Linked DNA regions of Homo sapiens: region 1 is linked to region 2. Evidence: fine-mapped expression QTL. A gene starts in region 2. The other region holds a variant in brackets. All regions are shown on one strand. Distances are between the middles of the regions.

Region 1 (4,362 bases), 190 kb before region 2:
ACAGCACACAAGATGGCTATTGGTCTGCTTTTACCCTACCCTGTACTATACATGAAAATTCCAGTTATTAACACACTCAAACTGGTGGAGCTTGTTCACCCTAGGAAGGGGATTGTATATATGGCAGGCTTCCCTGGTGCCGATGTAAAGGGCTACATTTGGGAACATTTGACTTCCTTGGGACTCTTAAGTGCATAATGATGGCATGAAGTAAAAGGGGCCTCAATGATGATAGGAAAATCAGTTCTTTTAAAATTTCTTCAAGAAAATCCAGGCTATCACATAGTCTTTCTGTGTGACTTATTAGGAGATAGGAAGAGCATTGGGAAACTTGCACAGCTAGCTATGCATCTACATTTTGGTTTGGGGTTAGTTATGAAATGTTCTTAATATGACGTGTTCAATAACTTCACATAAACTTCCTGTTCTCCAAAACCTCAAAGAGATAGAGTTAATGAGTTGTTGTTTTTTTTTAAATGGGGGTAGTTTTCTATCTGTCATGGGCTCTAGCATCTACTCCGCTACCCAATTCTGTCATCTCCAAGCTGAGTTTCCTCTTCTGAGGCAGAGGCTGGAGCAGTTCTTTTTCAGTTCTCATCCTCTCCATCCCAATCCAGTATATCAATCAACTCTAACTCGGAGACGTCTAGCTGGCAATGTTTCTAAAACTTTCACTGGATTTCTTTAGACATTGAAGCAAACATTTTTTTCTAAGAATTGCTTCTCAGATGATGATATCAAATGTATATGCTTTTGCAAGTTTGAAAAGTTCAAATTAACCACTTTTGACTAGGTAAGTCTTTCTAAAAACCATTTAAAGCTAACTGGGTCTTAGCATCCTCCTGTGTATGGAAGAGACAGGTGACCGCTCCAGGTTGGGTGCTCACAGAACCCTTTTCCTGACTCTCATGGAAGATGGTGGAAGGAAAATAGACTGTCTCATCAACCCTCCTGTGTCCTCTGAAGCAATCTCAGTTTTTATTAACCACCTCTTCTGTGTTTCTGGTAGCTATTTAACCTGTATTTAATCTGTACTTCCTATGCCAGCCTCAATTTTATTTGATTTTTACAATTATTCTCTTCTAACCAATGAAGTGTTTGTCAGTATGCCCCAAAGCTTGCTCTTTTGTGCTCCCTTTTGAATAACTTTCTATCCAGAAAAAGAGATTATTTGGGACTTGAGATTTGCAGTGATACCAACTTATAGCAATGATGTACTTTAAGGGAACTACCCAACTATGTTGTGATAGAAGAAAGAGAAACCTTCACTTTGGCATTTTTTTTTAATCACTGTTTATTTTTCTGTTTGCGGCCCAGGAAGCAGTGGGAGGTGGTGGCAGATATGCTTTGCATATGGATTGTTATGTTTTTATTTGGGCAAGTTTAATCATGGAAAACTCAAAAAGAAGGGGGGAAATGGTCAGTTTAAGCCAAAAGAAACTTTCTAAACAATGTATAGGTACACAGCAAAATTAAACAAATCCAACAATTTCTGAAGCTTAGTGTAATTGAGTGGTGGTTGTTATTCAATAAAATTATTCCCAAAAGTGTTTCTCCTAAGAGTGCAGTTCCCATGAGTCACTTCCTGAACCCATTGACCAAAGGTGGACAGAGACAATCCTGTAGACCTTGACATTCAGAAAGATGTGAGCTGCTTACTGATCATATATGCATACGTTTCTTTACAGCAGAGGAAACCATTGTCCACAAAACTGATGTTCTTTTGGGGTTTTATGTACAGACTTGTCCAATCATGTGTGTGGTTCCTGCGAGTTGCTGATGACTCCGCATTGAAGCTCTCTGAGTTCTTTGATTTTAAGTTGGGTTTATGGAATTTTTTCAAATGTTGGAAGGTGTGTGGTTCTTCCTGCCCTCCCTCCCCTTTTGGAAATATGAAAGCAAATGTTTAGAAGAATTCCTTTTGAAAAGCTGTGTCGTGTTCCCTGTGAAACTGAGCAGGTGTGTGTTGGCGCGCTAAGTGCCACATGCTTGTGTGTAGAGGAGGAGGTGGCCCTGCCGGCTCCGCGCTGCTGTGCCTGTGATCCCTACCTGCTCCCCGCTCCTGTTGCCAGCAGCACTCACTGCACTCCTTTGTCATATACTCTGCATCACTGTCATACTCACAACTTCGTGAATAAAGTTGTGTGCTTTATTCGTAGATGCCTCCATACCTGTGTTTCATTTCTCGTTCCCTGGCTCCCTTTGAAGGTCTATCTCATTTTAAAAAGCACCAACGCAACTTCCAATAATCAAAACAAAATCAGAATGAACCCAAGGCTGTGGGAAT[A/G]CATTTTTATCATGCAGGTGGAAAAATGCAGCAAATAACAGCAGGATATTCCAGGACTGTGTGTCCAATAACCCAGACCATATTGACCAAGCTGTCCAAAGGAAAGAAATGTTTAGTAGAGCCATTACACTGTGCTGTGTCATAGGTGTTTGATTTGGTTTGTGACACAGCAGGGATAGTCCCATCATTTCGACAAAGCTGGGGATTTGAGGAGGTTTGAAGCTTCTGAGCCACTATGAGTGTGGGCCACTTTTTAGTAAGAAGCTAGAATGCAGTAGGAGAAAAGCATCCTTCCAATTTTGGGCATCCCCTGCATGATCAAACTTTACATGAAGAAATTGTAGATGTTAACTTCCTTGTTATCATCACTGCCAAGATTTTAGGCTTGCCAGAAAGTACAAGGATCTATGTCCAAGATGGCCCACTCCAACGATAGCCTTCCTTCTGCTCTGTGTCTGCTGAGACTACCCAAGACCCAGTCACACTGGCATTCACATGACCCTCCCCTGGAAGCGGGATGCAGGTTGTTTTCAAGACAGTTGGCATCTTTAGTTCACCACCATGGAAAACAGGCCGGGAGACCTCAGCTCAAGGTCTGTGTTCTGCTCATCTCTGCCTCCACCCGTGGGAAAGCATCCCTGCTGTGGTCCATAATTACCATAGCTAGGGGTCATCTCCAGTCCTTATGAACTCTCTGTGGGATTTGGCTCTGGTGGCCACCTCTCCAATGGAAGTTGACCCGTGCCTCACTTCAGTTGCTAGACTTTAGTCAGCGAATCTCACACTGCCTTTGCTGGGAGTGGAAGGATCTCGCCTCACCCACTGCTCAGCTGCCTCTCCCCCAGTACCCTGCCTTCAGATCTTGCCAAACCACTGCAAGTTCCCAGGACATACCATGCTTGCTCCCTCCCAGGCAGCTTTATCAAAGGTATTTCTTCTTTACGATGCTCAACTCTTCAAGGAGGTGGTGGAGCAGAGAGGACCTGGCCCCAGGGAAAGGAAGTAATGATCAATGTTGACTCTTTAAAAACAGCTACCCATCAGCTCTTTGGAGTTACCCATGTGAATTTCCCATGGGCTCCATTTGTTCCAAATTAAAGACAAGTCCAAGTTCACACCCTCTCTATGAGCCTGTCTTAATGGGCCCAGCCCAATCTGCATGTAATTCTTTGCATGCCTCTAGTTGAACCTCAAGGTCGGTACTTAGCAAGTGTTGCCTCGAACTGCTAGCTGCGTGGGTTTCTGCTCTTCAGTTGAACTGTAGTGAGATCTCTGTGCTGAGCGCCAGGCACCCTAGCTTGGCATAACTATATTGCTCGTGAGAGCCTTTCAAAGTAGACAATTGTAGCTCCACTATACAGGTAGGAAACCAAAGCTCAGAGTCTAATCAAACATGCCCAATCACTCAGCCAGTGAGCAGCAGAGCTAGAATTCTCCAGGTCTGCCCTTTTCAGATCCCATGCTGTTATCCTCCACATCCCATTCCCTGTGACTTTCTTAGGGCAAGGACTGTGTCCCACATTCTGAATCTCCCAGGGCACACTGCACAGAATGGGTTCTTAGTGTGAGACCGGCCAGCGCCCTTCAGTGTGGCCATGAGCCCCAACACTACCACCAAGGCGCATTTATGAACAGTTTGGGGGTTACTCACTGTCTGTGTGTCTTGGAGCCCGTTTAGCCTCTCTTCAGCCTCAATTTGTTCATCTGCAGAATGGACAAGATAATAATATCCATCAAAAGACTGTTGCCAAATTATAGCACGTGAGCACTTAGGTGGTTGAATAAGGACTAGTATTATTTTAAATAATCATTTGAGAATGAATTAGTTTTCACTCTGGGCTTTTTACCCCTCCCTCTAGTCATTTTGTTTGTGTTCACAGGGCCTTCCTCATGGATTCTCCTTCTAGTCTTTATATAAATACTCCAGGATTAAAATAATCCCACGACCTCTTTTACATACTTCAACAACAGCACTCTCTCCACCCAAGCATAGTCTAAGATAGAGATCCCCTGAAGATGTGCTAATTAGTAGTAATAATAACCAGAAGTATTACTCAGCAGCCGAGTGCAGGGTA
Region 2 (4,391 bases):
ACAGGAGGTATATGGGAAACCTGTACCTTCTGCTCAATTTTGCTTTGAACCTAACACTCTAAAACTGGGTCTCAGTTTCCTCATCTGTAAAAACATGGGCTTCTGACTATGATTCGGATATCCCAGGGGCTTGTGCCTATTGAAGAGAGGGGAAATACTGGCTGTAATCTCTGTACGGTAGACCAAAAACCAGATTTAATGAAAATACACTGATGGTTTTCAGCCAGAGATGATGAGGAAAGCAATCCTCTTCTCCAACCTGGGATTTGCCTGGGGACCTAGTCTGAGAAATTCTTACACTACTAGGAGATGGCTCTGGGCTGGATTTTACAAAAGAAGAGTAAGGCCTGAGGAGCTCTGAACCCCCATCAGTCACAAGAGAGGATGGCTTCAGCCTGCTGAAAGCCAGCAGCATTTACAAATTCATGCCTGTGGCTTTTGCCAACTCTAGTGGTACCTTTCTGACCTCTTCACTTCTCTGACTCTTCAATAAATCGACATTTCTTAATATAGTGTCACCTTAACAGCAAAAGAGACCTTGAATTTTTGGGACTGAATTTATAAAACACTTAGAGGTTCTGGGGTTTTACTTAAAGCAGCTTGTAATTTGAAAAATGTACACGTTCTAATTATTCCAATCTCCAAGACATCAAACACATGGCATGAGGTCCCCATTGCTAAGTCCCCTTTCAGCTTCAGCTGGAGCCCTTGATTCCACAATCACAAGCAGCAAGGTGCCCTCCTCCCTTCTCTTCTGTCTGGTGCCCCCAGCAAGTTTTCAAGGTTCAATTCTGAGACTCTCCCATTCACCGTCCCAGCAGGTGGCCAAGGGCCCAAGGCGGGAGGGAAAGGTCGGCTTAGCTAGGGAAAGTTTTGTTAGCCTTATTGGAAGGGAAGGAGACATGCAGGAAGCAGGGCTGAGCCAGGTGGGGGAAGTCACCAGAACGACAAACCCCTGGACTTCCCACTGCCCAAGCGCGAGGACTCTCGGGGCAGCCGGCCCCTCTCAGGTTCTGCTTGCAGACACTTCGCTGGGGGCACTCGTTCTGCCTGGGAAAACTGCCCCAAGTCCCCTTAACACCTGTGTATGTCCTGTAGTGGGGTGTGGGGTGGAAGCGAGCATGTCACCAAAGCCTTTATTCAAAGGGCGAGTCCCTTTCCGCGGCCGCCAGGGAAGGGGGCCCCGCTACTGTGCCAGGAGGGCAGCTTGGGTTTAATACATGCCCTCCTCCACCCCTGTACCCGGAGCCCCTACCCACTTACCTGCTGACCGCACCCCTCCCAAAACCCCGCCAGCTCGCCCGGGACGGACCGCGAGTGGCCACGAGGGAGGCGCGCGCCAGGTGCGCTCTTCCCCCGACGCCGCCGTGCCAGGAAGGCCGCGCTCAGGTGCGCGCAGACAATGCGAACAAAGCCCGCACCCTCGGCGGGGCCGCGCAGCCCGGGTGCTCTGGGTAGGGGTGGCTGGGCAGAGGGGGCCCCAGTACCGGGAGCGTGAATCGGTCATCGGCAGCCGGCACTGGCGGGTACCCGGGCGCCAGAGCCAACTCGGGGCTGGGACTCACCGGAAGGAGAGCGGCGACCAGCGCTCGGTGCCCGGGCGGCTCTACTCACAGACCCGGGCGCGGCTCGGGCCAGGGGGCGCTACGGGATCACAGGAGGGGCGCCCGGGGCGCGGCTGCCACGTGGGACACCTGTTTGTCTCTCCTGGGAGAGGGCGGCACGACCCGACCCGGCTGAGGTCGGAGGAACTACCGCCAGGGAGGTGCATAGAGCCCCTCGCGTTTTTTAAAGCGGCATCGGCCCAGGTCTGCAAATAAAAAAGTACTTCACTTCTACGCGGGTCACCCAGCCTCCGAGCGGTGCAGCCGCGAACACTGTGCCGTCAGCTGACTCCTCCACGGGCTTTATAGCTCCTTGAAAAAATGTTGACTTTGGCATCTTTTCTATTTGTCATGGCAATTGCCTTTTAATTACCTGTCCCTCCTATTGTTGCAGTTGGGTAATAAGCCGACCTTTTGGCCATCATCCTTGCTTAAGATTGGAGGGCGTTTGATTTTTAAAAAATCAAATGCCACAAAGCACAATGCTGAGCATGATGCTTTATATAAAGTAAGCTCTCAATGAACGTTGACTATGACTGCACAATCCATAATTTCCATACTTCATTTAAAAACTGCCAGAGCATGCCTGTTCATTGCAAAAAAAAAAAAAAGAAAAGAAATAACAGTAAAAAAGTTGATAAATCAATCATTTTCCAACACCCAGAGATAATCAGTTAACATTGTGGTGTATGTTCTTCCAATGTCATTCTACCTATGCAAAAATTTATATATTTTTAGTTCATTCCATACAAGCTGTACATTACTCAGGTTTTCCATTTCCTTTTTTTGAATGTCCGTTTTAAGCCACTTCATAATGTCCTAATGTACTTAACCTATCTGCTATTGTTGAATATTAAACTTTCCATTTTAATAATACAATTAGATGTCTTTGTGCTTTTGTCCAATTAATTCCTTAGAATAAACTACGAAAAGGTAAATTTCTAGGATACAGGTTTTATACAACTTAAGACTTTTGATGCCTATTATCTAATTGTCCTCAAGGAAGGTTGACCTGCTTCCTCTTTTCCATGCTCCTTCCCATTATTCTTGTAAATGTCAATCTGATAGGAAAATAATTTGCTTTACACCTTTCCTGTCTGTAGTTCTCAGTTAATTTCCAAACCTCCGACACTGACAGCTTCCAGTGAAAGTGGCCCGTGGTGACTTTAATGTTGCAAACCTCATTGAAGGAGGCTAGGAAAGGACTCATTTTTCCTGTAATTCATTTCTCCCAGTAACATTTACTGAGCACCCAAAAATAAAAACAGGGCCACACCAGAGCAGCAGACATAATGTACCACCACATCATCCCCACAGGGGACAGCAGTTAGTCTTGAGGTCTAACTGCTGGGGAGGGATGGTCTCTGCCTCTAGATCAGCATTGCCCCAGAGAAATACTGACCAAGCCACGTGTGTAATTTTAAATGTTCTAGTGGTCACATTTAATAAAAAGTGAAAAGAAACAGCAAGCTGGATTTCAGTATTAACCTAAACATCCGGAACATTATCTCAACATGTAATCAATAAAGATGTTTTATGCTGTCTTCAAAGTCCTGTTTTTTTGTTTTTTTTTTTTTTTTTTTTGTTTGAGACAGAGTCTCACTCTGTTGCCCAGGCTGGAGTGCAATGGCATGATCTTGGCTCACTGCAACCTCTGCCTCCCAGGTTCAAATGGTTCTCCTGCCTCAGCCTCCCGAGTAGCTGGGATCACAGGTGCACACCACCATGCCCGGCTAATTTTTGTATTTTTAGTAAAGACAGGGTTTTGCCATGTTGGCCAGGCTGGTCTCAAACTCCTGACCTCAGGTAATCCACCCGCCTCAGCCTCCCAAAATGCTGGGATCATAGGCGTGAGCCACCACGCCTGGCCAATCCTGTTGTATTCTATACTCACAAGCACATCTCAATTTGGACTCGCCACATTTTTAAGTGCTGTATAGTCAAATGGGGTGAGTGGCCTGTGCTGCTCCAGAGATGTCCAACAAGGGCAGACCCCAGGTCCTCAAGAAAGTGGAAATTCTACCTTTGACAACCCTCTCCCTGTACCCCTTATGCTGTTTAACAGGTACCAGCATACTTTGACCTTATCAGGCTTACCTTGGAGAAGCCAAATTTCAATCCTGGTTGTTCCTGAAGTATTTGGCATGTCTTTAATTGGGGGCGGGGGGGGGGGAGGTATTTCACATTTTCATTCTGTGATTATGAAGAACTGAAAGCATAAATACAGTGAAGATACCTGTTGCTTCAGACTTCTTCACATCAATGTATAATCAGTCTGTCCGGGGTGTGCACTTGGGCAGGAGGGAAGGCAGGTGGTGCAGGCCCTGGTGAGTGCTGAGTGCTGAGTGGGTGACCAGCAGGGGTGGAGGCTTTTTATGCAGAAAGCTGGGTAGCTACTTTTGTCATCCATGACATCCCTTCCTTTGTGAAGATTTACAAGGATTTAAAAAATAAAGTTATTATGAATTACAATCATTCTAAGGGGCATGTAAGCTTCTTGCTTCCCAGGAGCTTGCCTTATTCATCTTTGCAGCCCAATGCCTGGTAACTTGCACACAGTAAATGCCCTCAGAAATAAAACCCCATGTCCTCCACTGACTGAAAGGACCCCCTCTTGTCCAAGGGGACCCCAGAGAAATATTTTTGAGACTGAGTCTCGCTTTACTGCCCAGGCTGGAGTGCAGTGGCTGGATCTCAGCTTACTGCAACCTCCGCCTCCCAGGTTCAAACGATTTTCATGCCTCAGCCTCCCAAGTGACTGGGATTACAGGCGCCCACCACCAGGCC

Which allele goes with the higher level. Positions count from the first base shown, and alleles are read on the strand shown. Sizes are in standard deviations (SD) of each study's normalised expression.
As copies of G replace A in region 1, the expression in pancreas of the gene that starts at base 1,881 in region 2 goes down (moderate effect, 0.51 SD a copy in GTEx).

The links. PIP is the estimated chance that this variant, and not a neighbour inherited with it, causes the effect. A credible set is the group of variants that fine-mapping cannot tell apart.
Region 1: its variant is the best candidate, but not a certain one, in a credible set for the expression of VWA2 in pancreas (GTEx, PIP 0.80).

The regions. Positions count from the first base shown.
Region 1 is chr10:114,428,908-114,433,269 of GRCh38, reverse strand. ABLIM1 (actin binding LIM protein 1) reads left to right here. Exons shown (of 23, transcript NM_002313.7): 23 at 1-2,158. Among named protein-coding and RNA genes, the nearest start is that of AFAP1L2, 27 kb to the right of the region's middle. The variant A/G (reference allele first, on the strand shown) is at 2,288.
Region 2 is chr10:114,236,744-114,241,134 of GRCh38, reverse strand. VWA2 (von Willebrand factor A domain containing 2) reads right to left here and starts at 1,881. Exons shown (of 14, transcript NM_001272046.2): 1 at 1,566-1,881. RefSeq lists an enhancer at 1,262-1,970.